Homo sapiens: one gene and its partners. The protein of the gene in region 4 purifies or fractionates together with the protein of the main gene of each other region. This does not show direct contact. Each region holds a gene or a part of one and is shown on either strand. Other genes may lie near its edges. The genes, in order: GRAMD1A, ATP8B2, DAGLA and MCOLN3.

What was found.
Region 1: the proteins of MCOLN3 (region 4) and GRAMD1A purify together in Homo sapiens (affinity purification with mass spectrometry; 3 studies listed by BioGRID and IntAct, with this or other methods). This does not show direct contact.
Region 2: the proteins of MCOLN3 (region 4) and ATP8B2 purify together in Homo sapiens (affinity purification with mass spectrometry; 3 studies listed by BioGRID and IntAct, with this or other methods). This does not show direct contact.
Region 3: the proteins of MCOLN3 (region 4) and DAGLA purify together in Homo sapiens (affinity purification with mass spectrometry; 3 studies listed by BioGRID and IntAct, with this or other methods). This does not show direct contact.

What each region holds. Positions count from the first base shown.
Region 1 is NC_000019.10:35,017,305-35,024,326, reverse strand, and holds part of GRAMD1A (protein Aster-A), read right to left. Parts: intron 5,137-7,022; coding exon 5,018-5,136; intron 4,937-5,017; coding exon 4,794-4,936; intron 2,826-4,793; coding exon 2,722-2,825; intron 2,637-2,721; coding exon 2,463-2,636; intron 2,377-2,462; coding exon 2,289-2,376; intron 1,428-2,288; coding exon 1,416-1,427; intron 1,092-1,415; coding exon 984-1,091; intron 901-983; coding exon 780-900; intron 631-779; coding exon of another isoform or gene 586-630; exon of another isoform or gene 542-585; intron 1-541. UniProt on the Homo sapiens protein: Cholesterol transporter that mediates non-vesicular transport of cholesterol from the plasma membrane (PM) to the endoplasmic reticulum (ER).
Region 2 is NC_000001.11:154,328,519-154,335,540, forward strand, and holds part of ATP8B2 (phospholipid-transporting ATPase ID), read left to right. Parts: intron 1-279; exon of another isoform or gene 280-469; coding exon of another isoform or gene 470-557; intron 558-1,877; coding exon 1,878-1,936; intron 1,937-2,296; coding exon 2,297-2,410; intron 2,411-2,529; coding exon 2,530-2,628; intron 2,629-2,925; coding exon 2,926-2,987; intron 2,988-3,087; coding exon 3,088-3,160; intron 3,161-3,435; coding exon 3,436-3,506; intron 3,507-4,099; coding exon 4,100-4,179; intron 4,180-5,588; coding exon 5,589-5,747; intron 5,748-5,984; coding exon 5,985-6,073; intron 6,074-7,022. UniProt on the Homo sapiens protein: Catalytic component of P4-ATPase flippase complex, which catalyzes the hydrolysis of ATP coupled to the transport of phosphatidylcholine (PC) from the outer to the inner leaflet of the plasma membrane.
Region 3 is NC_000011.10:61,732,391-61,739,412, forward strand, and holds part of DAGLA (diacylglycerol lipase-alpha), read left to right. Parts: intron 1-2,458; coding exon 2,459-2,612; intron 2,613-3,170; coding exon 3,171-3,254; intron 3,255-3,348; coding exon 3,349-3,426; intron 3,427-3,879; coding exon 3,880-3,960; intron 3,961-4,791; coding exon 4,792-4,934; intron 4,935-5,296; coding exon 5,297-5,365; intron 5,366-5,744; coding exon 5,745-5,817; intron 5,818-6,786; coding exon of another isoform or gene 6,787-6,908; intron 6,909-7,022. UniProt on the Homo sapiens protein: Serine hydrolase that hydrolyzes arachidonic acid-esterified diacylglycerols (DAGs) to produce the principal endocannabinoid, 2-arachidonoylglycerol (2-AG).
Region 4 is NC_000001.11:85,024,490-85,031,511, reverse strand, and holds part of MCOLN3 (mucolipin-3), read left to right. Parts: intron 1-2,306; coding exon 2,307-2,406; intron 2,407-5,227; coding exon 5,228-5,340; intron 5,341-5,423; coding exon 5,424-5,573; intron 5,574-5,728; coding exon of another isoform or gene 5,729-5,899; exon of another isoform or gene 5,900-6,955; intron 6,956-7,022. UniProt on the Homo sapiens protein: Nonselective cation channel probably playing a role in the regulation of membrane trafficking events. Acts as a Ca(2+)-permeable cation channel with inwardly rectifying activity.

The DNA of each region.
Region 1 (7,022 bases), on a different chromosome or scaffold from region 4:
CTAGGCTCAAACTCAGGACAGCCAGCCCACATCCAGTGTTTCCTGCAGGCCTGGCACCACTCCCAATGTCAACTTGTCTCATCCTCACAACAGTCTTTGAGGTAGCATCAGTCATTATCCTGTGCACAGAGGAGTCCACGGCCACCATGGCAAAATCACTTGCACGAGGTCACACACCGGAATTGGAACCTGGTTGTCTGAGTAGACATTGTCCCTGAACTACACTGGGTGTCTGGGTCCACTCCGTTTTGGAGATGAGACCTCAGGTCCTTTGGAGAGTCTCTCCCCTTCAGACCATGTGACCCCTTAGTTACCCCAGAGTGGGGTAGCGGGTAGAGGGACCACACGTGGCCTGCCCTGGCTGTTGTGATGTGTCAGGGGTAGGCCTGGGACCCCAGCAGCCAATGAGAGTAAGCTCCGTGGTCCCCTGTGGGGGGAAAAGGGTGGCCTCCAATGAAGCCAACCCTGGAGATGGGCACAGGGCAGAGTGGGCACGAGAGACTGACTCTTACTGCCATTGAGTGACCAAACCCGGCCGTGCCTAATGTGAGACGCCTCTGGACTTTTCTCCAGGACGTGAGCCAATCAGTTCTGTCTTCCATCCATGCTTCCATGCTTTCCCCTGCAATGCTGTGGGGTGGGGACTCTGAGCGGCTTCCTCATTTTACAGAGGAGGACACTGAGATCCGGAGAGGGGAAGTGCCTGCCGCACGGTGGGGTTTCAACACAGGACCCTGCAGCCCCGCAGCCCCGAGCCCTGCCCGAGCGGCGCCTCCTACCTCATCCAGGAGCTCCACGGAGGCCCGCAGGATCTGCCTCCACTTGTGCACCTCCACGCTGTGGAATTGCTTCTGCAGCGCCAGGATCTCGGCCCACTCTGTGGCCGTCTGGGGGAACTTGCTGTGGGGATGCCAGGCCTGAGCAGGGCCTTGGCCTCCCCCGATGTGCCCAAGCCCCCCCATTTCCCCAGGCTACCCACTCACCCCTTGGCCAGGGCCAGGCTGTGCCAGGACTCAAAGGTGTGGGCTGTCCTTTCCAGGGACCAGAGGCGGTAGAAGAGCAGGACGTTGAGGGCGATGAGGATGATAAGGCTGGGGACAGGGGTCAGAGGTCAGGATTCCTGGGGTCTAGATGCTCTGAACACCCCCAAACAACTACATCTTGTAGGGACACCTCTATCCCCCATTGCAGAGGAGGAGAATTAGGCTCAGAGAGGATGAGAGACATGCCTAGGGTTGCACAGTCCATAGCAGGGAAGTCAGTGTTCAAACCCAGGTCTGTCTGATGCCCATACCCTTGACTGCCATGCCAGGCCACCTCCCTGGGGGAGCTGGGGGGCATGGGGTGGGGAGAAGAGGCTGCAGCAGGGGTGGGGTGCAGGGAGGGGAGGGCAGGGGGAGGACTCGGGACCCTACCTCACACAGATCCTGCAGCAGCAGCAGTGAGGGGAGACAGAGAGATGAGCGCCGCCTGGCCTGCCCCCGACACCCCCAGCCCTCCTCACCCGGGGCAGCTCTTGGCTGAGAGCACCACGCCCCCTCACTGGATGAGAGCTGAGAGCTGAGGCTCAGAGGCTGAGCATGTAGCTGGCCTGACCCTCACCTCGCAGGGTCTGCTCAACCCCGGGATCCTGCTTCTGTTTCCTCCCAGCGTCCTGCCCGCCAACTCCTGCAGGCTTCTGGGCAGGAGTGTGGGTTCTCCCTGCCCAAGCCCTTAGCCTACGCGGTCTCCACTCTCTCAGGACGCCCATCCTGACTGCCCCCTCTGGCCTGGGAGGAAGCCGCCGCTGGCCTCCCAGGGCTTCCCCACTCCCAGCCCCAACCCCTCTGCCCATACCTCCCCCATCCCAGCCCGGATCACTCTGGTCTGGTGTGAGGTCTATCTTTTCCTCAAGGTCACTGCGGTGTCCTCAGCATCGCCCAGCTTAGGAGTGGGCACAGAGAACATAATGTCCATAAATGACCTCACTTGTTAGGCACACCTCTCCCTGTGCACCTAATTCCAGAATCTTTGTGTGCCTGCTCCTCCAGAAAGCCCCCCTTGATCCTTGGGTGAGGTCAGGCCCCTCTGATCTCCCATAGCCCCCCCCGGCTCTGCTGTTCTAGCAGGGAAGGCTTCTCCATGACAAACCGGCACATCCCAAACATTGCCTTGTCTAATCCTTGCTGTGAGCAAACCCACGCTCCCACTTAAGCAGAGAGCTCAAAGAGGCCACACACTTGCCCAAGGTCACACAGCCAGGAGGCAGGTTCAGGCCTGTGTGGCCACTGCTCCTGTCTCTTACTCACACAATGCTGATGAGAACCAGGGCACTGGGGATGCCTGCCCCGGGGCCCTGGTCCACAGATGGTTCGGAGAAGCGGGAGCTGAGGGAGCCTGCAGGAGAGCAGCTTGGAGTCAGATGGCCCAGTCCAGGACCCCCGATCCTCCGCCTACCCCAACCCGGCCCCAACGGAACGTACCCGAGGTGTGAATGCCGGCCCGGGCACAGGGGTCAGGATCTGGGTGCTGGGGCCCGTCCCCGTGAGCCCGCCAGCTCAGGGGCCGCTTCCGCCGCCGCAGGCCGGATAGCAAGCCCCGGGCATCCTTCCCGCCTTCCTCCAGAGACAGCTTCTCAGCCTTGGCGAGCTCTCGCTCTGCGTAAAAGAGAGGGGGCTCTGGATGTCCATACCTGGCCAGGCCATCCCCCAACCCACGCCCCAGCCGGCCTTCTGTCCCTACCCAGATGGTGGAAATAGTCTTCAATGCCGCTCCACGAGTTCTTCTCAATGAGCGACTTCACCAGGCTCCACGGCTGCTTTCGGTAGCGGATCTCAGAAGACACTCTGGGGTTGGGAGATCAGGGGAAGGAGGTAAGGGTCTGACTCCAGCCCTGGCTGCCCCGTCCCACAAGCTGAGTTTTTTCCTTCCCCTAATTCAGAGAGGGCCCCTTGTCACTCACAGACAAAACAGATGGGTTCCCTACCCCCCATGGCTTCCCTGGATACCCCATACACCACCCGCCCAGCCCAAATGCCAGCCAACTCAGCCCTCGGTCCTTCTCCACCCATGCCCACTACCTGGGCAACGCTCCCGGCGGCCTGAGCCCTGTCTACTCACAGACTGACGTCTTAACCAGACCATGCCCCTGAACCTCTTCCATTCGGCTGCTGCACCCCAGCTCCACATGGGCTCAGCTCAACATAGACAGCTGAGTCCCAAACTGACCTCCTGGTCTTTCCCCAAACCCATTCCTCCCTGCCGCCCCCATCTGGGTCAAGGGCAGCTCCGAAGTTGTAGTGATTTGGGCCAAATGCCTCGGGATATTCCTTGAGCTCTCTTTCCCTCACCGCCACATCCAATCTCTCAGCAAATCCTGTCAGCTAAACCTGCAAAATCTCTCCAGAATCTAAACTCTTCCCCCTCCATTTCCTCACCCTGATTCAGCCTCCGTCCCCTCCAGCCTGGATGTCCCAGCAGCCTCCTCCCTGGCCTCCCTGCTCCTGTACCTGTCTTTGCAGTCTGTTCCCACCAGAACAGAGGGAGCCAGAAGGAGCCTGGGACCACCTGAGTCAGGTCAGCGCCCTCCTGGCTCAGAGCCCTGGCCTGGTTGCACCTCACTCCAGGTAAAGTCAAGTCTTCACCATGAGCCACATCTGGTTCACCTTTTTTTTTTTTTTTTTTTTTTTGAGACAGGGTCTTGCTCTGTCGCCCAGGCTGAAGTGCAACGGTGTGATCATGGCTCACTGAAATCTCCACCATGTCTGGCTAATTTTTTAACTTGTTTTTTGTTTGTTTGTTTGTTTGTTTGAGACAGAGTTTCACTCTGTCACCCAGGCTGAAGTGCAGTGGCCCGATCTCGGCTCACTGCAACCTCCACCTCCTAGGTTCAAGTGATTCTTGTGCCTTAGCCTCCCAAGTAGTAGGGATTACAGACGTGCATCACTACCCCCGACTAATTTTTGTATTTTTAGTAGAGATGGGTTTCACCATGTTGGCCAGGCTGGTCTCGAACCCCTGACCTCAAGTGATCCGCCCACCTCAGCCTCCCAAATTGCTGGGATTACAGGCGTAAGCCACTGCACCTGGACCCTGGCTAATTTAAAAAAAATTGTTTTTGTAGAGACAGGGCTTCCGTACGTTACCCAGGCTACTCTTGAACTCCTGGGCTCAAGTGATACTCCTGCCTCAGCCTCCCAAAGTGCTGGGATTACAGGTGTGAGCCACTGTGCCGGGCCCCGGTTCACCACTTTAATCTCAGCTCCTACTCACTCAATCTTACTCCACTCCAGCCATTGCCCACACCCCTGCCTCAGGGCCTTTGCACCTGCTGTCCCAAATGAGTTGCTCTCAGCTCCTTCAGGTTCTTGGTGAAACATTTCTTTCCCAGTAGGCCCTTCCCTGACCAGCGTGTCGGGTGTAAAAGCCTCCACACCCTGCTTCTTTAGCCTGCCGTGTTTTCCTCATTTTTCTCCATAGGCCTAACTGCCAGTGAATGTTCTGCAGATTTTCCTGATCATTTCTCTATTGTCCAATTCCCCACTAGAATATGAGCTCCCTGAGAGAGGTGATATTGCCTGGCTTTGCTGTATCCTCAGAGTCTTGAGGCTCAAACACCCTCTGTAGATGGGAGGAGCCATCCCAGGGCCACTCTTCCTCTACCCTCCACTATTCGGAGGACAAGGGCCTCAGGAACCCCACGCTTCTGTTCCTCCACCAGGGTGGGAACCAAGGCTCTGCTGCTGACTTGAGGAGTGGACAGGAGGCCCTGGGGCCACCAGGGCATCGGGTGGAGGGGCCCAGCCACCACTCACCGGAGCCGCGCCTTGTTCCGGGCCAGACCCAGGATGCAGTAGCGGTGGGCAGTGTAGAAGTAGTCCTGGTAGGGGATGCCCTGCGTCAGCACCTCGGAGTCCACCACACACCCGCCGGCCTGGGGGCCGCGCCGGAACAGCGTCTGCAGGGACAGAGCCGGAGAAGTCAGGGCCACCCCACTCACCCAGCTGCCCCACCCACTCGGCTGCCCCACCTGGCCCACCTGTGTCTCCACCACGGAGGCGCTCTTGGGGCCCAGTGGGTTGCTGATGGGGATGGTGTACGTCAGCACCCGGCGCTGGTGGCACTTGCTGTCCCCACTCCAGGGGCTCAGCGTCACGTCTAGAGGAGGGAGGAGCAGCATGAGGAGGCCACACCCCAGTCCTTTGCCCACAGGCCACAGGAGACTCAGCCTTCTGGGAGGTCTCTCTGGGGACCTGTCCCAATCCCCACCACTCCTCTGTGTCCCCACCTTCCTTCCAGGAGCCTAAAACCTTAGCTGTTGGGGCAGGGCCATCTCCTCCACTGCTGCAGCCTCAGTTTCCCCCTCTGCACCCGTCTTGGCTTCTGCCCTGAGCATTGGACCTGTAATCTTTTGAACACCTTCCCCTGGAAGGTCCCTGGACCCCTCGAACCCACCGAGCTCCACACAGCCTCAGCATCTCCCCAAACCTGCTGCATCTCCCAGGCCCCCACTCAGGGGTGGCCCAGGGTCCTCCAGGCTCCCACTGGAGCGGTAGGCCTTGCCCTGGACACCCCCTACTCAAACCCCTAGATGGTTACCTACACTGTGTGTTCACCAAACCTCCTGAGCGTCACTCCTGGTTCAGCCCATCTTTGCCTGCCCAGTGCCCCTGCCAGCCTTCCCTTGAGTGTCTGGCCTCAGTCTCCCCATCTGGTCCAGGGGCATCTTGTTAAAGCCAAGCCTGACTCTATCCCTTCTCTGCCTAGAACACTCCATGGCTCCCCAGTACCCCTAGAACAGAGTCTGAGTTTGGTATAGTTTGGATATTTGTCCCCACCCAAATCTCATGTTGAATTGTAATCCCCAATGCCGGAGGTAGGGCCTGGTGAGAGGTGTTTGGATCATGGGGGCGGATCCCTCATGGTTTGCTGCTGTCTTCATGATAGTGAGTTCTTCCGAGATCTGGTCATTTAAGTGTGTGGCACCTCCCCTCCACTCTCTCTCACTTGCTCCCCCTTTGCCTTTCAGCATGATCAAAAGCTCCCTGAGGCAGCCGGGCACAGTGGCTCACGCCTGTAATCCCAGCACTTCGGGAAATTTGGGAGGCCGAGGCAGGAGGATCACCTGAGGTCAAGAGTTTGAAACCAGCCTGGCCAACACGGTGAAACCCCGTCTCTACTAAAAATACAAAAATTAGCTGGGCGTGACGGTGGGCGCCTATAATCCCGGCTACTCAGGAGGCTGAGGCAGGAGAATGGCTTAAACCCAGAAGGCAGAGGCTACAGTGACTCAAGACTGTGCCACTGCATTCCAGCTGGGGCGACAGCAAGAACCTGACTCAAAAATAAATAAATAAATAAATAAATATGTGTTAATGATCACAAATTTAATGTCCACTCTGTCAGGCCTATGCAGGGCTTGGAGGCCAGTGGGAGACCAGGATAGATGAACTCCTGTCCTTAGCACCCAGAATCTCTTGAGAACAACAGGAAATATCTATAAATAAAAACCACACACTACTGGCATGGTGTGAGTTAAGGGCAGAAGCTGTGAGTATCTGGGGGTATCTGGGATCTGAGGAAGGTAAGGGAAGGCTGCCAGGAGGATGTGAAATCAAAACCAAGGCCTGAAGGAGGAACTGAGGAAGGAAGGGGTCGGGGCAGAGGAGCCCAGGAGGCCGCGTGATACCAGTAAAGGCCCTGAGGCTGGAGGCCAATATTGAGAGAAGTCCCCTGAGGCTGGGATGGGGCAGCCAGGTATGGAGAGGGGCAGCCACAGCTCTGGGTGAGGCTGAAGGGTTGACATGGGACCAGCCAAGGAACTTGGGAGGCTACAAAAGAGATTCAAGCAGGGGAGGAGCGTGTCAGATGGGAGTTTCTCTTTGTTTCTTTTTCTGTATTGATGAGACATGCAGTATCCCCTGCAGTCAGGAAGATGGTGCCTTGTGTTGGGGGGCTACAAGGCCCCCAAAACTATGCTTATGTCCTAAAAGGGCTGGCGTGTCAGGCTGAGGAGCTCTGTATTAGGCCATTCTTACATTACT
Region 2 (7,022 bases), about 69 Mb from region 4:
TCTCCTGGTTTTTCCGCGGGCGGGGGTGTGTGTGTGTGAAAGCGGTTGCCCCCGACAACGCCGGCAGTCCGCTCACCCGCATTGGCCCGGCCCGGGGGTGGGAGGGGAGGCGGGGCTCGCGCGCGAGCTTTCGCCTACGCGGCGCGCTGGCAGGCTGCGGCTCCTGCAGTCGGGGAGCGGGCGGGGGCGGAACCCTGGGCGTGCTCGGCGTGTCCGGGGCCACTCAGCGCACGCTGGCATCCGCCGGGGGGCATGGGGGGCGGCGGCGGCGGCGCAGCTGAGCTCGCGGTGTCCCCGAGCGCCGGCGGCCGGGAGGATGGCCTGGGCTGCGGGTGGGGCGCGCGCCCGACGGCTGGGGCTCCCCTCTGAGCGGCTGCGGCTCCTGCACCTCCCCGGGGAGCCGCCCCGTCGATGCCACTAAGGCCAAGGACATATAGACGGTCTGCCCTCCCCCACTCAAACCGGGATCATGACGGTCCCCAAGGAGATGCCCGAGAAGTGGGCCCGGGCCCAGGCGCCTCCCTCTTGGAGCCGAAAGAAGCCCTCTTGGGGGACAGGTAACGGGAGGCAGCGCCTGGCAGCTCTCCCGCACCCATTATTTCCCCCCTCCAATCCCTACATTCACTTGTCCCCAGCCTCCCCCTACCTGCCTTGATCCTCTTTCCAGACCCAGAGATCCTGGCTCCGAAGGATCCAGTCCCTACCTTCTTCGTTTGCATGGTCTTTGGTGATTGCGCAGGGGACTTGGCCCAAGAGAGCCCCTCTAGGGAAGTTTATGGGAGTGAAGTGGCTTGGTAGGCAGGGGGCACTGTGGCCTGGGTTTTGTTACTGCAGTGTGCTCTGCAGGGGTCCTGGGGTGTGTAGAAAGGGTTCTGGAATGCTGTCTTTGGCTCCCGGACAGGCTTAAGGCATTAGGTTTGCTGCCTAACCAAGTTACCCCTTTTTGCAGCATGAGGTCATGGTGACCCCCGGGGAGACGGGCTGGGGAATCTATTATAGGACAGCTCCTTGTTCTGGGACATGAATTTGATGCCTGCAGTCCCAGACCTGCAGAGGTTTCAGATAGGTTTAGCTAGATAGGTGTCACTAACTGAGTGACAGATGAGCCCTTTAAAGCTAAATGTGTGCAGATGGTACAAGGAAGGTCCAGTTAGAGAGCAACTGTTTCAATTACATTTCATTCCTCCCTCCTCTATCTCTATCTCAGTCTGCATGACCCATATCCCTGAAACGCACCCCCCACACCTTTTTCTACTTGAAGATGAGCTTTGAAATAAGGTGATGTCATTTCGGGCCAGTCAGAAGCAGTTGCTGGTGACATGTGACAACCAGAGGCTCCTGTAGGGGGGACTGCACATGGGGCTGGGATGCTCCCGCAGAGCAGCTCCAGGGCACAGGGAGCCTCCTTCTTGCCACCTACCCCACTCTCTAAATAAGGGAGAGAGCAGTACCGCGACTAGATCTGCAGTGGTCCCCAGGGGGAAGGAAGCTTTGCGTTTTCAGCGCTACTCCTTGATTATGACAATGTATGCATTAGTAATAGCAGCAAAAGGGGCTGGGGAATCCCAGGACTGTCAGTGGCTCAGATTCCTCTGGAGTGGGGGTGGGGGAGACAAACTGGGTGCTTCCAGTGGAAGACCTTGAAGTTTGGTGGTGAGGAAAAGAGAACATGTCCTGTCCTGTGAATGTAACCTGGAGAGCCGTGTGGTCAGGCTGCTGGTGAGAGGTGGACTGGAGGGAAGAATTTGATGACCCCCTCAGTTGTGGAGCTAACTCCTTAAAATGATATTCTGTGGAAAAAAACAGGGAACCCCCCAGCAAAGTGTTGGTCCAGACCTCAGTTTGCTCCTCCTGACTGCAGCATCATTTTGTTGCAGAAGAAGAAAGGAGGGCGCGGGCTAATGACCGAGAATACAATGAGAAATTCCAGTATGCGGTAAGCGACTCTAGACCACCTGTTCCCTCTCTCTGTTTGGAGAGGGGAATGGGGCAAGGACAACCTACCGTTGGGACTGAGGGCTGCCTGGGAAGAGTGCTTGGGGGAGGGGAAGCAACCTCCTCAGCCACTCTCCATCTGCTATCGTGCTGAATTTTTCATGCCTTCACCTGTCAGTGAAGCAGAATACATTGACCCCCTTGAGACTCCCTTCTCTCCTCCTCTTTCCCCCTCCCACACCTGTGTTTGCTAGCTTTTGGGGTAGAGGTCTGGGGAAGTATAAAGATGGGGGAGGCAGCCTCAGTCTGGTTCTGGGTTGGGACTGGAGACTGCTCATTATCTTCTCTCCTACTGCCATAGAGTAACTGCATCAAGACCTCCAAGTACAATATTCTCACCTTCCTGCCTGTCAACCTCTTTGAGCAGTTCCAGGAAGTTGCCAACACTTACTTCCTGTTCCTCCTCATTCTGCAGGTAGGTGACCCATAGTAGATTTTTTGCAGCTCCCCAAACTGAATAAAGCCAAGGAAGAGGAAAGGGAATGAAGGCATCAGATGGGGCCTCAGAGGCATACTTCTCTTTCTTTTTTTCAGTTGATCCCCCAGATCTCTTCCCTGTCCTGGTTCACCACCATTGTGCCTTTGGTTCTTGTCCTCACCATCACAGCTGTTAAAGATGCCACTGATGACTATGTGAGTGGTTTTCATTCTTCTATTTTGTCCCAGTCACCCACCCCTACTCCCAGCCCCACCCCCATCTCATGGCCACCTTCATCCAGCACAATTTCTTGGTGACCTTGACATCCCTTACCCGGTCCAGCTAGATCCATGATGTCTTTTTGCTGAGCGTGGGGAGAGGGAATCAGGGAGTGAACTGGTTTGTGATGGGGTGTGTATGAGGCGTTAACCAGCATGCTCTGAGTTCTACTGATCAACGAATTCCTTCGAGGCGGGGGAAGGTGTCTTACCTTTCAGTTTTCTTCTTTTCAGTTCCGCCACAAGAGCGATAACCAGGTGAATAACCGCCAGTCTCAGGTGCTGATCAATGGAATGTGAGTGCCTGTTGGAGACAAGAGCTCTGGGGACGAAGGGGGTCCCTTAGGAACCTCTTTAGCTCCTGACAGCCTCTTCACTGTCTTCTCGTTGCCTCAGCCTCCAGCAGGAGCAGTGGATGAATGTCTGTGTTGGTGATATTATCAAGCTAGAAAATAACCAGTTTGTGGCGGTAAGGGACAGGGTACCCCTCTAGGCCTGTAGGTTCTTCCTCTTCTTTGTGAGAAAAGGATGAATCTTTCCTGATTTACTGTTGCCTCTTAAACACCCGTGGCAGGAATCTTTCTCACACCAGGGGCTTCTGTGTCATGCTGATATGCCTGGAACTAGCCATTTATGCACCTGGAACTAAGCAAACCAAGAATGCTTAGTGGAAGGAGCCACCATTACAGCCCACTGGGGGTGGAGGTTTGCATATTTGGACTTCTCATTAGTTTTTCTCTCTAGGCGGATCTCCTCCTCCTTTCCAGCAGTGAGCCCCATGGGCTGTGTTACATAGAGACAGCAGAACTTGATGGGTAAGTGGCATGCTCAGTGTCAGCCCTCTCCTTCTGTCTCTTTGGAGGTAAAAAGATTGTCTTTGAATGAGGTTCTCAGGCCTGGGCTCTGTCTGAATTTGGAAAAATTAGGGGTAAGAAAGGCTTTGGATGGGATGTGTGAAGTGTTATTCAACCAGTATTTGCTGGGCTGAGCAGTTATGCACCATGCTTAGGTGTCACCAGGTAGAATTTAGAGGATGGGGAGAGGTGGGCATGGTGACTCACTCCTGTAAATCCCAGCACTTTGGGAGGCCAGTGTGGGAGGATTGCTTGAGGCCAGGAGTTTGAGACCAGCCTGGGCAAGATGGTGAGACTTCATCTCTATAAAACAAACAAACAAAAAATTTAAAAAGTTTAAAACTTAGCTGGGTATGGTGGTTTTAATGCCTATAATCCCAGCCACTTGGGAGGCTGAGGCGGGAGGATTGTTTGAGCCCAGGAGTTCGAGGCTTTAGTGAGCTATGATTGTGCGACTGCACTCCAGCCTGAGCAGCAGAGCGAGACCCCATCTGTGAAAAAAAACATTTAGAGGATGAGGAGGGAGCGGGGACTCAGAGATACTGTCCTTCCAGCGAGACCAACATGAAAGTACGTCAGGCGATTCCAGTCACCTCAGAATTGGGAGACATCAGTAAGCTTGCCAAGTTTGACGGTGAGTAATTTTGGAGGAGCAGCCTGAAGGTAGAGGAGTGGGGTTGGGTTTTGTTTGGGGGCGTTAAATTATACATTTTCCTTTGGGCTTTTTGTTGTTATTATGCAACTCCCTGGACTGTTTTGGGGAGGGGAGTGTTTGTAATGTCATGTGGCTCCCTCTTGGTTTTGAGTTTATAATTATTTCAAGGGGACTTTGTGGCTGATAGCTCCCCACTTGCTATGCATGTTGAGAGAAATTCAGCTTATTCTTTTAGCTTATTAGCTCAGAATAATAATATGTGTTCCTTATAAGACAAACCATACAGAGTGTATAAGAAAAAGTGAATAGAGGTCGGTACCATGGCTCACGCCTGTAATCCCAGCACTTTGGGAGGCCGAGGTGGGCGGATTGCCTGAGGCCAGGAGTTCGAGACCAGTCTGGTCAACATGGTGAAACCCTGTCTCTATTAAAAATACAAAAATTATTAGCTGGGCGTGGTGCTGCATGCCTGTAATCCCAGCTATTCAGGAAGCTGAGGCAGGTGAATCCCTTGAACCTGGGAGGCGGAGGTTGCAGGGAGGCGGAGGTTGCAGTGAGCTAAGATCGTGCCACTGCACTCCAGCCTGGGTGACAAGAGCGAAACTCTGTCTCAAAAAGAAAAAAAAAATACAAAAATTAGCCGGGCGTCGTGGTGTGCATCTGTAGTCCCAGCTACTTGAGAGGCTGAGGCATGAGAGTTGCTTGAACCTGGGAGGTGGAGGTTGCAGTGAGCCGAGATCGGGCCACTGCACTCCAGCGTGGGCAACACAGTGAGACACTGTCTCAAAAAAAAAAAAGAAGAAGAAAATAGCTCTTCCTTCCTCTTCTACCCTGCTGAAGTAGCCACATTAATTGACAGTCAGTGTGTGCTCATCCACACTTTTCATACATGTTTGTACAAACAAATATTAGGTCATGCTGCAGCTTTTTTTTTTTTTTTTTTTTAAATACTCCTGCCCAGGTTGGAGTGTAGTGGTGCGATCTCGGCTCACTGCATCCTCTACCTCCCAGGTTCAAGCGATCCTCGTGCCTCAGCCTCCCGATTAGCTAGAATTACAGGCTCCCACCACCACACCCGGCTAATTTTTGTATTTTTAGTAGAGACAGGGTTTCACCATGTTGGCCAGGCTGGTCTCAAACTCCTGACCTCAGCTGATCCACCCGCCTTAGCCTCCCAAAGTGCTGGGATTACAGGCATGAGCTGCCGCGCCCGGCCTGCTTCATTATTTTCCTGAAGAGTTGCATCAGCTCACACTCCTCCCAGCAGCATATGGATGGGCCCTTGCCCTTGCATCCTCTTCGCTCAGCTCATTTTCTCTTTGTTTTATTGTCTTGTGGTTAGGCTGTAGACTGGACCTTAAGCAGTGGAATTCTTGTCTCCTGTTCAGGTGAAGTGATCTGTGAACCTCCCAACAACAAACTGGACAAATTCAGCGGAACCCTCTACTGGAAGGAAAATAAGTTCCCTCTGAGCAACCAGAACATGCTGCTGCGGGGCTGTGTGCTGCGAAACACCGAGTGGTGCTTCGGGCTGGTCATCTTTGCAGGTGAGCCTCCTAGCATCCAAAGAAAGAAGGGTAAGAGTGACTCAGCCAGCCCTCACTCAGGAGTATGGGATGAGGTGGGAGAATACCTAAGGTAAAAAACCTCCAGCTGTGTATACAGGCTTCTTATCTAGCCAGTATCTCTATTCCACCCTGGTGTCCTGCAGTCTGGGGATCAGGGCAGAAGCCCAGAGGCAGATGTGTTATTTGGCTTTCCCAGCCCTTCCCATTCTTTTCCAGGTCCCGACACTAAGCTGATGCAAAACAGCGGCAGAACAAAGTTCAAAAGAACGAGTATCGATCGCCTAATGAATACCCTGGTGCTCTGGGTGAGGCGCCCCACATCTGGCTCCCTGCCCCTGCCCTCTCTTCTCCTTGGGTGCTCCTTTTCCTTTCCTCTTTCTTCTTTGGTCAGTAGACTTCAGGTTTGGCTTTAAAGCTGCTAGCAGGTCAGCTACACAAAGGCAGTGTTTATTTTAGGCTCCTTTTAGTTGGAAGATGTTATTTAAAAAAACTTCAGGAACGTGCATGAATCAACAACTTAAAGCTAAAACAAATCATCCCTTCTCTGATTCCAGTTATGATGATGACTTTGTGAAGCATGTGACCTTCTGTTTGCTTTTGCCAGGGACAAGGAGGCCTTCATGGGGATGGAGAGGGAATTAAAAGAAAAATTTCCATTTGGAAGAGGTTGGCAGGGTCTTTTCCCCCCAACTTCTAAGAACGAAGGATCCCAAAGGAAAAGTTTCTGTTTAAGTTTTTGGCAGTTCCTGAATCCTTCTCTTGTTTAGCTAGAAATCTGAACTCCTTGTTGGGCTCTCCTCCCCTTCCTGTGCCCCGACTGTCTGCTGCCTGCCCGCCACATGCCAGCTTGTGAAGGCTGGGGCTAGCCTCTGGTGAGCTTGTTTCCGCCCTGGCTTTAAAGAGTGTGCGGAAACCCAGCCTGGTGGGCGAGGTTGTCTATCACATAAGGGCTCCAGTCGCCCCCTGGTGGCCATTGGGCACCAATCTCCTATTTTGTTTCAAAGCCTAAACAGCGGAGGCAGCTTTGGAAATAGATGTAGGAAATTGGACAGTGGCCTGGTTTTTTACCAGTCTCTCCAGAGACTCCAAAATTTATAAGATTTTTGACTAATCAGGAAATCTAGACCAGGAGTGGTGGCTCACACCTGTAATCCCAGCACTTTGGGAGACCAAGGTGGGAGGATCATTTGAGCCTAGGAGTTCGAAAACAGCCTGGACACCATAGTGAGACCCTGTCTTTACAAAAAACTGAAA
Region 3 (7,022 bases), on a different chromosome or scaffold from region 4:
CTGCATGTGCCTGGCATTCTTGCCTGCATCCCTGGGAGTCCCAGCTGTGGCAGAGAACTCTTCAAAATGAGCACCAGGCTCCATTACTCACTGGTGGTGTGGGGACAGCTCTTAGAGCCTTTGTTTCCTAAACTGTAACAGGTGGTATCTGTCCTGCCTGCCCATAGGGTGTTTCAGAACCCAGGGTATCACTGGCAGGCAGGGCTCTCTGGTGCTCTGCAGACAGGAGGGGTGCTGGCATTTGTATTAGGTGCCTTAGTGTTGCAGAGAGAGCAGAGTCCCTAGACCTCATGAGGGCCCAGCCAGGCCCCTGCCTGGAAGAACCAGGTGCCTGTGGGGCAGAGAGAGGCAGGCCTGCAGCCCAGGGTGTTGGGAGGAGGCCAGAGTCCAGTGCCCCAGCCTGTCCATAACAGCCTGGCCAGAGGGAGAAGGGCTGCCCATCTGCCTCGGGCCCAGGCCTCTCCCCTGGCAGCAGTTCTCAGCCCATGCAGAGCACAGCGAGCCAGGCCTGCTTCTGGCTTGGCCCTAGCCCTGCCCTGGATGAGCCCCAGGGCCCTCCCATCCGGGGTGCTGGCCCTGCTCCCCTGACTGGTCCTCCTGGCCCACACATCACTGACTCAGAGGCAGCCCTGTCACCGGAGAAGCGAGGAGCCACTCGTTATTAAGAACCTATTATAGGCCAGACCATTTCTGCATCTTGGACCCTTGATCTCACACCAGCCTTGTGAAGTAGCTGTCACCACCTGCTCTTACAGAAGAGGAAACTGAGGCTTAGAATGGCTGAGTGACCTCCAGGCCCTTGCGGTCAGGAAGTGATACAGCAAGGGTTCAAACTCAAGCCTCCAGTCTCCAAAGGCCACACTGTTACAGCCTCATGCTCAGCTGAGGTTGGAGAGGGAACAGCTGCCGAGCACAGGAGCTCAGCCCCTAGACCCTGGCCCATCACCACTTGACCTGCAGTGTGGGGGACCATGCTCTCCCATTGTACATCGGCTTTGTCCCCCCAGCAAGCACTGTGGCTTTCTCAGCAAAGTCTCTCCCCATTGGAAAGTGTGTAATAGTCACTCAGGTGATGCTCTGAGTGAAGACAAACCTCCTAGCATCACCAGAATCCAAGCTTCTTAATAAAATCTCAGCTGTCATCCCGTGACAGCTGGCAGGCCCAGTCACGTGGGCTCCAGCGTCTGGTGCCTTAGCAGTTGGATGCTGGCTCCCTCTGGTGGCCTGAGGTGCCGCTGCACCTAGCTGGGTGCCCAGCTCCCAGGCTGCCTCATTCATTTCTGTGGGGAGGCTACTGTGTACCTGGCCCTGTTTGGGTGCTGGGGATACAGCTGTGGACCTCTCTGTGGTGCTCACTGCCCAGCGAGGAGGCGGACAGCGCATAGACAAGGCAAATAGGGCACATGGTGGAGCGGATGGGCACTTTGGACCCACATAAAGCCAGGTGCCTGGGATGGGGAGTGCTGGGGGCCTGGGGAGCCCTGGCTGTTAGATGAGGTGGCAAGAGAGACCTCACTGTGACAGGACGTTTGAACAGAGGCCCAGAGGAGCAAGGGCCAGGCCACGCTGTCTCAGGTGCTGCTGAACACGCTGGCAGCAGGTCAGAGAGACCAGAGCCAGGTGGGGTAGACAGGGCGTTGCTGTAGGGTCTTAAAAAGAAAATGATGTGGCTCAACTTATCTTAAAAGGGCCACTCTGTTGCTGAGCTGAGAGCGTAGGGGCAAGTGCAAGGAGGCCAGTCGAGGCCACCATGACAGTCCCAGGCAGAGCTGCCAGGGCAGGGGTAGGGGAGGTGAGGGAGTGCCTGGAGTCCAGCTCTGAGTCTGAAGGGAAGCCGAGTACGTGTACTGACCGAGTGGCATGGCCGTGGGGGTGAGGGCTGAGGAGCCACAGACAGTTGCAAGCCAGAGGCCAAGCCACCGAGGGGCCTTGGGAAGACCTCAGGAGGGTTGGGGTACACAAGCAGGGAAGGGGTTTGAGAGCTGGCAGGGTGTCAGGTGTCCGAGAGAGGTGCTGGCTAGGCCATTGGATGGAAGCATCTGGGTGTTGGGGCAGGCCTGGGGTGGATTCCTGAGCATGCAGATGGTGTCTAAAACACAAGACTGCATGAGTGCATGGAGGAGCCAGTGCCCCCAGAGGGACCCCAGGGCTTCAGTGTTGGGTGCATCGCTGAGTAGGCCCTGCCCGGAGGGGAGATCCCAGAGAGGAGGGGGCCCCAGCCAGGTGGGGAGAGGGAAGGGCCCACAGGGTCAGGTGCCGCCAAGAGCTCAGTTAAGAGGAAGGCTAAGAGTGGCCAGTGGATTTGGTGACGTGGGGGTCACTAGGACTTAGCAAGGGCAATTTGGTAGAGGCAGTGGGGCTGAATGCCCAACTGGAACTGGTTCCAGGGACAGTGGCAGGAGACATTTGTTCCCTCGGGGACTCCCTGGCCCTGAACTCTCTTGTCACCCCACCCTAGGTGTTGCCTGTGTCCTGCGAGGCCGCGGTTCGCCCCTGGAGTCACCATCGAGGAAGACAACTGCTGTGGCTGTAATGCCATTGCCATCCGGCGCCACTTCCTGGACGAGAACATGACTGCGGTGGACATCGTCTATACCTCCTGCCATGATGCGGTGAGGCCGGGCAGGGCTGGGGCCTGGTGTCAGGAGCAGGCAGCTGAGGGCCTAGGGTGCTGAGGCTATCCTTCCAGGCCGGCAGGAGCCCTTGCTTGGCTGGTGCTGGCTGGCTGCAGCTTCCAGGCATCCCTAGCTGGGCAGACCAGAGGTGGCCCCCTTCTCTTCCCCAGACCCTGGCTTGCCTGTACCACCTCTGGGGCTGGGAAAGCAGACATCAACCCCACACCCAGTGTTTGGGTTGCCGAGCCCTAGCCCTTTAGGGAAAGGAATTGAGGGCAGAAGCAGGGAGGGGCAGCCATCACCTGGACTCAGGGGCAAGTGGTGGCACTCAGGGCTGCCAGAGCCAGCAAGGAGCGGGGAGGGCAGGGCAGGCCTGTGGCTGGGATCGGGAGGAGATCCCCAGTGACCCTGGGAGCCCGTCAGCCTTTCTGGCGGCAGAGGCTCCGTGGCTGGTGGAGCCAGAGTTCCTGGCCAGGAAGGAGACCTGCCTAGGTCACTTTCCCTGAGTGTGGCCCCACCAGGGCCGCTCAGGCTCACGAGCTGCCCGCCTCCTAGGTCTATGAAACGCCCTTCTACGTGGCGGTGGACCATGACAAGAAGAAAGTGGTGATCAGTATCCGGGGGACCCTGTCCCCCAAGGTACGCTGCCCATGGCTCCCAGCCCCCGGGGGTGCCTGCCTCCCTCTTCCTGTCCTCTTTAGCCGCCCCCTCACCTGTCTCCTCTCTCCCCAAGGATGCCCTGACTGACCTGACGGGTGATGCTGAGCGCCTCCCCGTGGAGGGGCACCACGGCACCTGGCTGGGCCACAAGGTAACCCACGTCATGGACCCCAGGGCCCCTGGGCTTCTTTCCTGCCCTGCCAGTGTGCAGAGGCGTGTATGGTTGGGGGTTCCTCCCTGCTCGCTGGGCTCACTGGAAGAGATTGGTCAGAGAGGCATGAATTAGTCTGGAAGGCCCGTTGCGGCCCACTGCTGCGACCCCACTGCCCTGCACAGCCCAGAGCCTGACCATGGAAGAACCTGAGAGGCAGCTGCGGAGAGATCATACCAGCTTCATTAGCCACACTGCCCCTCTGAGCCTCAGTTCCCACCTGTGAAATGGAAGTGACAGGATCAGCGTGTCTGCCAGCCCCCACAGCTGGGTTGTCACGAGGCCCAAAGGGAAAAATGGATGGGGCAGGGTTCCTGAGCTGCAGGTCACTGTGGGTTTGCTGGTCACTGGGAGGCCTCCCACCAACACCTGCTTCTGTTCCTGCCCACCCAGGGTATGGTCCTCTCAGCTGAGTACATCAAGAAGAAACTGGAGCAGGAGATGGTCCTGTCCCAGGCCTTTGGGCGAGACCTGGTGAGGAATTTTCCATGGCACCAAGCCTTTTCACACCTGGGTCCCCCTCCTCCAACGCAGCACAGAGAGGAGAGGATGGATGGGTGATGGAGCCTCACAACTCCCACACAAGCCAGGCTCCTGCAATCCCTTCCAGCCTGGCTCCCAACCCCTCCTCTTTTGTGCCAGGTCCTGTGGGCATCCTGCTCCGCCCCACCTACAGTCATTGGGCACCTGATTCATGCCAGACACTAGAGGCACAAAGATGATTCAGGGCAGACGGCTTTTAAGCCTCATAGCTGCAGAACCGTTTGTCAGAAGGAAACATGGAGAGGCTCAAAATACAGAGCAGAGAGAAGGGGTGCTGCTCTACCTAGGGGGGAACTGAGTCCTGCCCACTGGCCACGGTCTGTGCAGGTAGCTCCTGAGGTGCCACCAGCTGCCCTTTCCAAAGCAAAGCAGGCTCTGGCCTCAGGAGACTTCAGTCTAGTAGTGAGGGTAGAGAGATGGGGTCAGGTAACCACATGTTTATAGTGATAAAAAGCTCCATCCCAGGTACAGATGCAATGACTAGAGGGAGTGAGCCACTCCTGGAAAATCAGAAGGGCTTCCCCAAGGACATAACCTCTGAGCAAGGTTTGGAAGCGTAAATAAGAGTTTATTAGAACAGTCTGCCTAAGCAGTCGCTCTGTGGGGCCCTATCTTGGTTCTCTGTGCCCTAGCATTCACACAGCACAGACAAGATCCCAGGACTCTGGGAAGATGGGAAGACCCTCTGCCTCCCTTGGGTTGGCTAAGACAGTCGCTTGGCGGGCATTGGGGCAGGGCTCTCAGGCTTCTCTCGGTCTCCAGGGCCGCGGAACCAAACACTACGGCCTGATTGTGGTGGGCCACTCCCTGGGCGCGGGCACTGCTGCCATCCTCTCCTTCCTTCTGCGCCCACAGTATCCGACCCTCAAGTGCTTTGCCTACTCCCCGCCAGGGGGCCTGCTGAGGTGAGCCATCTGGGGCTTCAGAGTTGGCTGGGGCAGTTGGGACCAGTGGAGGCTGAGGGTTGGCTGGTGCTAGGGGCTGGACTGGGAGTCTGACTTCTGGTCACATGGAGGTCTGGGAGTGGCCTGGAGGGTGGAGGGTGGGGGCTCTGAAATGCCATGCGCCCCCCAGGATCTACCTAGCAAAGCCTTACCAGTGGGAAAGACAGAGCAGGGAGCAGGCAACCCAGCCTGCCACCAGCCAGCTCCCCGGGAGCCATCCCAGGAGTGCAGGAGCAGGGCTTGCTTGTGGCTGGGCCCCCCGATTCCGGAACACCACCACCCCGCCCCCTTGGCCTTAGCTTCTGCTTCGGCTTCCCTTGCAGTGAGGATGCGATGGAGTATTCCAAGGAGTTCGTGACTGCTGTGGTTCTGGGCAAAGACCTCGTCCCCAGGTGAGTCCTTGGCCCCGCTCCATGGTCCCTTGCCAGGCTGTTCCTCCCTCCTCCAGGCCTCTCCCCACCCCCAGCCCCCGCATCTCTCTCAGTCCGATTCCTGTCTCTCAAGGGACCCCACGCCCCTCCCCACCCTTAGTTGCCCAGTGGTGAGAAGCCCAGGTGAACGCACGTGCTGGCGCCCGCCCTGCCTGTCCTCTCACTCCTCAGCTCTGCTCTGGGGAGCTGCTCTGTGGACACCTCTCCACCCCGTGACCCTGGCTGACGTGTCTTCTTGTTCCAGGGGCTAGGCGTGTGCCTGCCCCTCCGCCCCTGGCCCCATACCTCTCATAGCCGCTGACCAGGCCTGGCTGACGGCCCTGTCTCGTTCCCTCCCCAGGATTGGCCTCTCTCAGCTGGAAGGCTTCCGCAGACAGCTCCTGGATGTCCTGCAGCGAAGCACCAAGCCCAAAGTGAGCCCCCACCTGGGCACCCTGCCTCTGTGCAGCCTCATCTGTCCCTGCCCTTGACCCCCACCGGTTTCTTGGGACAAAGCACAAGAGGCCCTGCCATGGAAGGCCAGGGCAGGGTGTGGCTGGTGTTGTGGGAACTTCAGGAAGTCAGACCCTCAGCATCCCCAAGCTCAACCCATCCATCCCCTGTCATTGTGCAGATGGGGAAACTGAGACCCAGAGTGGGAGGGACTTGCATTTGCTCACATAAAAAGTTAGAACAGAATCAGGACAGGAACCGAGAGGCTCCCATCACACAGAGCTGGGAGCTGCCCACAGTCAGGAGAAAGCGATCTGGAGGCTTTGAGCGGTGAGGAAAGGCCTCTGCCGAAGCCTCTGAGATTCCCTAGGCTCAGGGAGGGCTGGGAATGACCTGTGGAGAGGATTTGGGTACAGTTTGTTCTGATTTTCTGCTGTGACCAAGAGGAGAGGGTCAGCCCTTCCTAATCCGCATCAGGTCTCTGGAGGACACTGGCAGACGGGGTGGCCAGGTGGGGGTGGGGACATGGTGGCCAGGCACACTGAGGCAGGCCAGCGCAGGAGGAGAGGGTCCTCTGTGTGGTCACCCCTCCTCACCCCCTGCCCCCCGCCCCCTGCCCCGGGCGAGCCCTCAGCCCATTCACCATCTCAGCCCCGTCTGGACCGTTCCCAGCTTTGGTGCCCTAGACCCTGTGGCAGGCAGGGCCCTGGGCCAGGTACCAGGTGCCAGGCAGTGAGCAGGGCAGCAAAGCTTTGTGGGACTTTGCCTGCCTGGAGGAGCCTGGTTCTGGGGAGGTGGAACTGCTCCCACCAGATTAGTCCTGGGCTTTTGTCAGGCCAGGCCTGGCAGGTCCAGCTGGACTCAACTCCAGGGTGTGTTTGGCCTCGGACTTGTGGAGTGATCCAGAATAAGTCCCTTCCCCTCACTAGGCCTGTCTCCCCATCTACTAGATGAGGGGTTGGCTGGGCTTCCAGCCCCTTGCCAGCCCTGAAATTCAACAATTCCATGTCATCTGTCCTTGGCACCTTATTGGCCGTCTGGCCACCGTGCACCTCAGCCACTGCCTCTTCAGGTGGGCACCGACCTTTAATGCTCTGGCCACTGCCCTTCCCCTGCCCCTTTGCCATCTTACTGCCCACCTCTCACCTGCTGAGCCCCCCTTCTCGGTCCCCCTGCCCCTGCCCCC
Region 4 (7,022 bases):
TATTTATGGGGTACAGGTGATATTTTGATGCCAGCATTCAGTGTGTAATGATGAAATAAGGGTAATTGGGACAACATTCACCACCTCAAATATTTACCACTTTTTTATGTTGAGAATATTCTAAATCTACTCCTCTATTTATATTGAAATATAAAATAAATTATTAACTATAGTTGCCATATTGTGCTACTAAACACTAGATCTTATTTCTCCCATCTCACTGTATTTTTTTTTTTTTTTTTGAGATGGATTCTCGCTCCATTGCCAGGCTGGAGTGCAGTGGTGTGATCTTGGCTCACTGCAACCTCTGCCTCCCGGGTTCAAGCGATTCTCCTGCCTCAGCCTCCGGAGTAGCTGGGACTACAGGCACACGTTACCACGCCCAGCTAGTTTTTGTATTTTTAGTAGAGATGGGGTTTCACCATGTTGGCCAGGATGGTCTTGATCTCTTGACCTCGTGATCCACCCACCTCGGCCTCCCAAAGTGCTGGAATTACAGGCATGAGCCACCGTGCCCGGCCCTCACTGTATCTCTATACCTATTAACGAACTCTTATTTATCCCCCACGCCTCCCCAATACCCTTTCTAGCCTCTGGTAACCATTATTCTATTCCAAGCCTTCCTTTGCTAAAGGTAGTTTCCTTGGCTATAGAATTGTAGGTTGACTGTTTTTTTCTTTAGCACTTTAAAGATGTTGCTTCTAGCTTGCATTATTTCTAATGAGAAATCTGCTGTCATCTTTATCTTTGTTCTTATCTATGGGATGTTATTTCCCATCTGTTGGCTTTTAAATTTTTCCTTTATCTCTTACTTTAAAACAATTTGATTGTGAAATGCTTTGATGGTGTTTTCTTAATGTTTCCTGTGTTTAAGGTTCATTGAGCATCTTGGATCTGTAGGTTTATAGTTGTCATTATATTTGATATTTATTCAGCATGATTTTCTTAAAATATATTTGTCACTTCCCCCCACCTTTTCAGAGATTCAGAGACAAAAACGTCTGTATTTGGTTACTTGGAGTTGTCCCATAGTTCAGTAATGATCTGTTTGTTTTATGTCTCAGTTTTTTTCAGTGTGTTTCATTTTGGATATTTTCTGTTGCTATATTTTCAAATTCACTGTTTTTTCTTCTGTGCTATCTAATGTTTTCTAATCCCATCCATTATTTTTCTTCTTTCTTTGGGATTCAGTTTACTGAGATGTGATTGACATTAAGTCCCAGTTTTTTACTCAATAGATATTTAGTGAGCACCTATTATTTGTACAAGTTGGAGGCCCTTTGTGTAGGAAAAGCATGGCTTCTCCGTAGCAAGGATTTCTGACTCAATCAAGTAACACTGAGCGTCCTCCTTGCACGAGGCCATAGGCTGGGTCTTGCAGCCGTTAGGGATATGGGCAGACACTGACTGTGCCCTCAGTTGCTTGTCAAAGAAAGAAGCTTACAATCCCTCATGAGGAGAAATACAGTGGTTGAACTTTTAAAAGTCATTTGAAATCTTATATTTGAAGTGTTTCTGATTACCCCATATGGAGAAGCTTCAATACAATTTATTTAAATGACAAAGTTTTCAAAGAACTTTTTTTCTTCAGGACTTGAGAGAAAGAGAAGAGGCAGAAATGAAACGGATTGATTTTCTTGCCTTGCCTTCCCTGTCCTTGCATAAGGAAGACAGTAGGAAAACTATGGAAGGTGTTCTGGCCTAGCTTTGTCCTGCTTGGCCCCTGGTGTCCTGAAGTGGTTATTCTTGAAGCAAGATGTGACTGTTGACTCCCTGTCACCAAACCCTTTATAATACATGTAGTGCCAACGTGACTAAGAAATCTAGGCCCAGAATAAAAATCAAAAAAGCTCCACTTGAAATGTCTCAAAGCAGAAATAATGAGCCTTTGTATTAGTAAGAATTATAGCAGCACTAAAAATCTACCCCTAACTGAGGTCCTGCCGGAATTTGGGAGAAAGCACAGTTGTACCAGTTCTTGCTCACATGAAGAAGGTATCTGGAGGTACTTAGAACAGAGAGCAAGAGGAAGTGCTCTTGTTATATAAGTTCTTTGGAGTGGAAATGCTGCCCTAGACATATAATGTTTTAGAGACTACAGGGTCTCTGTAGAAGATCTAGTTCATCGTTCTCATTTCACAGAGAAATGAAGAGAACTTCCCATGGTTGAACAGAATTAGCAACAGATCAGAGTTGAGAATCTGGGTCTCCTGTCCCCTTGAAAGAATTGTTTCCTAATTAATGTGTAGAGGTTTCTTGGCTCCAAAACTATAAGTATGTTTTTGACTGTTTTCCTGTCTTCACAGATAACATTTGACAACAAGGCCCATAGTGGAAGAATTAAAATAAGTTTAGATAATGACATTTCCATCAGAGAATGTAAAGACTGGCATGTATCTGGATCAAGTAAGTGATGCGCATTACTAGTTTTCAGAATGGTTATTAAATAATGTAAAATGGTTATTAAAATAGCACCCTCTGGATATCTAGAACAACAAATAGAAGATTAGACCATTTTCAAGTCCCTAAACCTCTACAAGTAGATCAACTCTGATGTTTCAGGCAATATGTGAGTCATGAATAACTGAAATGGCCTTCCTCTCCTTGTGCCCTCACTTGCCCACTCCTGACCAAGAATGTACTCACAGTCCCCCGCCACCAAAACCCTACATACATCTTCCCAGACCAACACTTACCGAGTGCATGCTGTGTACCTACTTCCACCTTAGTTTTCTTCATTTTAATATTTTTAAATGCCCTTAAGATAGGGAGAATCCTTATTTTTACAGATGAAGAAACTAAGGCTCAGAAGCCAGGGGCAAGTCAGGTAGGATGTGACCCTGCAGCATCCCACATATTATGATTGTCTTCAGTCCATTTAAAAGTGTACTGAAAGAGGAAAGGATCTACTCTTAGAAATATGGACAAAAATTCAGGTGTAGACCAAATACTGTCAAGAATTTTGGAGCTGAACTGGAGAGAATTGCCTGGAAAGAATTTATCTAATTTTCTAGTCTCTCATAAGTGACATAATGGTACATCGTACTGGACTTAATGGTCGCTAGATGAGGAGTTCTCAGATTCTAATCAGCAGAAGAATCATCCTGGGTACCTGCTATGATGCAGTTTCCCCAGCTCTATGCAAGCCAGTAGGTCTGGGGTGGGGCCTAGAAATGTGTAAATAGTCCTTACTCAGACTATACTTGGATAATCACAGTTCTAAAGTTTCTTACTAATTGATTTGCCAAGTTCAGACGTAATAATGAGATAGAGTAAATAAAATGAAATTTTGCCATGATAGTATTTTTTTCACTAATAGGTAACTTCAAATATATGAGGCTCTTGAGTCACATTTGAAACATAAGCCTGTTTTGTCATCTGTATACTTTATAATCATTCTCCACAAACACCAGAATGAGGAAAATGACAGCATACACAAGTGTCTGGCACCTAGGCATTCTCTCAAATGTTTGTTTCTTAATTTGTAAGTTTCTCTAAAGTCAATTTAGACATTTATGTAGTAATTATGCTCCTTGGCAGATACTAATGGGATGCTTCATCACAGAGCTAGTTTTAAGTACTTTCTTTTTTTTGTCAGCAGAGAGCAGTCTAACTTGTTAAATAGAGACAAGCTCTGTGGCAGTGTACAATGGCTGACACCTCTGCCCACCTCTCTCCATTGGCTCCACGCATGGTGGCCAGGACTTCGCACTTTCGATTCTCCAAAATCTCCATAAGGGTGGCTCTTTCTTATCACTCAGGTTTCAGCTAAAACCCCCTGCTCCCTCAGTGAGGCCTTCCTTTACTATGCAATATAAATCAACCTCTCTGCTTCCACATTGCCCGACACTAACCTCCCTCATATAGAGCAGTAGGTCTCAAACTTTAGCATCACCTGGAGGGCTTGCAGAAACCCAGTTTCTGATTCAGTGGGTCTGGAGTAGGACCTGAGAATGTGCATCTCTAACAAGCTCCCAAAAAATGCCAAGAACCACTGACATAGAGTGATGGACACTGGAAACAAACTGCACAGATTTTCCCCCAGCTCTTTCACTGACTAGCCCTGCAACTGTGGGGAAATCATGTGACCTCTCTGTGCTTCAGGTTTCTCGCCTGCAAAGTGGGGATAATCATGCTTACCTCATTGGAGTTGCTGTGAAGATCAAATAGGTTAACACATATAAAGTGTTTAGAGCTATGTTTGGCAAGAAATGTGCTCAATACATGTTAGCTATTGTGATTTATCTTCTTTCTATTACTTACTCCTATCTGAAAGTATTTTGTTATGTGTTTGTTTACTTCTTTGTAGTAGAATAGAAGTTCCACAGATCAAGGGCCTTGTCTATCTTGTTCACCACTGTATCCTAACATCTAGAAAAATGCCTGACACATAGTGAATGCATAATAAATATTTTATACCTAGATAAGTACATTTTAATAGAATATGCAGGGAGATGGGCCTGGGCATGGTGGCTCATGTCTGTAATCTCAGCACTTTGGGAGGCTGAGGTGAGAGGATCACTTGAGACCAGGAGTTCAAGACCAACCATGGCAACAAAGTGAAACCCTGTCTCTACAAAAAAATTAAAAATTAGCCCGGTATGGTGGCATACCTATAGTTCCAGCTACGAGGGAGGCTGAGGAAAAAAAAAAAGAATATGCAGGGAGGTAATTGTATTAAGAACAAAAGACTACAGGCTTATAATTAAAGATCTTGGAATGATAGTTGTGGTGATTTTTCTTTTTTTTTTTTTTGAGATGGAGTCTCGCTCTGTCACCCAGCCTGGAGTACAGTGGCATGATCTTGGCTCACTGCAAACTCCACCTTCCAGGTCCACGCCATTCTGCTGCCTCAGCCTCCCAAGTAGCTGGGACTACAGGCGCTCACCACCATGCCCGGCTAATTTTTTTGTATTTTTAGTAGAGACAGGGTTTCACCGCATTGGCCAGGATGGTCTTGATCTCCTGACCTTGTGATCCGCCTGCCTCGGCCTCCCAAAGTGCTGGGATTACAGGCATGAGCCACCACACCCAGCCTCAGTTGTGGTGATTTTTTAAAAGAAAGACTTTTGCCCTTCTTCAAATACTAATTGGAAGACCGTTTATCAGGGCTTCTTTGTTGTCTTACCAGAAAGAATGCTTGAATTATTTAAATGATTCTAAAAAGAAGATGTCACCATATTAATGTCCCACTACATAAGCACTATGTAATCCTCTTTGCTTTCAGTTCAGAAGAACACTCATTACATGATGATCTTTGATGCCTTTGTCATTCTGACTTGCTTGGTTTCATTAATCCTCTGCATTAGATCTGTGATTAGAGGACTTCAGCTTCAGCAGGTAGGGAACGTTGCTTTCTAGGAATGCTACTGACATTTTGATTGACAGAGACATTCACTGTGCCTCCCCTCTTTTCCCTAAAGGAGTTTGTCAATTTTTTCCTCCTCCATTATAAGAAGGAAGTTTCTGTTTCTGATCAAATGGAATTTGTCAATGGATGGTACATTATGATTATTATTAGTGACATATTGACAATCATTGGATCAATTCTAAAAATGGAAATCCAAGCTAAGGTAATTTTTTTCCTAATCATGCTATTGTTAGTGTCAGATTTGCACTAATGGTAATGTATTTTTCCAGAATGTAAGAATTTTCAGAATGAATTGTTTCTTCCAAACTGTATATCAAGTAGACTTGAAATTGGTAATGGTAATTTTCTTAAATCTAGTCAGGAGGTCTCTTAGGCAGAGTTTTTCAAAGTGTGATCCACAAACCATTGCATCAGAATCATTGGGTGCCTGGTAAAGTGTACCATGTTAGACCTACTGAATTCAGACTCTTCGGCGGGGCCTGTGAATTCTTACACACACCAAAATTCATACACAACCAAGGTAACTAAGGTAAGAGTTTTTTTTTTTTTTTTAATCTTACAAGAAATGCTCGAATCTTTAACAAAAATGAGTGGGGCTATAGGGGAAAGTGAGGTCAAGGCACTATGGTGTGCATGCTTGCATTTGTTTCCTCCGTCCATTCAAAGTGAGAATGCTCCCATTTTCTTACTTTACCATTGATGTGCTACAAGCTTATTTATTTTAAGACTAACCTAGCCTAAAAATCAACTGTCCCCACAAAATAAAAATCACATTAAAAAAACTAATAGTGTTCAGACTAATCTTGCTCAAACTTATGTTTCCCTAGTCTTGATGCAACTGATTGAGTCACCTGGGGAGTTGGTTATAAACCTGGGCAGAGACCCCAAATGCAATGGCTCAGAGAAGATAGGAGCTTATTTCTGTCTTATGCAATAGTCAGAATGGGTTTTACAGACTGGTGAGTAGCTCAACATCTCACAGTCATTCAGGCACCCATGTTCCTCCCATTTTGTTTCTCTGCCACCCCTTAAGGACTTGCCCTGACTGCATGATTATTGCCGTGTTGCCTCAAACAGGTTGCAGCTTATGGGAAGCAAAAACACGGTATGGTAGAAGCTCTCCCATAGACTGATGGCTTGGCTCAAGAGTGGCCGACTTTATTTCTGTACATATCCCACTGGATAGAATTTAGTCAATCCTAACTGCAGAGGGAGCCAGGGAACACAGCCCAGGCATGTGCCTAGGAAGGGGAGAATGGGTTTAGGTTGACACTTAGCAGCTGCCACTATATGTGGCTATAGTATGTATCATTGGAATAGATGTTTAACTTTAGGGACAAATAAAAAACCAAAACAAAAAAAGGAGTAAGGGGAGAGATTTGCAGCAAATCTTTATTTTTACCAACCTCAACTATCATTAATTTCAGTGAACCCTAAATGGTATCCAACAAAATATCTTTCTAGACCATTCACCGTCTCTGCCTCATAGATGATCATATCATGTTTTCTTCTCTTCTGAAACCTCTAATACCCTTGTCCTATCCTCATTCTAAGCTGATGACCTTACTTCCTATTTCACAAAAATAATAGAAAAAAAAAACAGAATTTCCACAAACCCCCACCTAATTTATCTGCCTCCTGCCATCAGTGC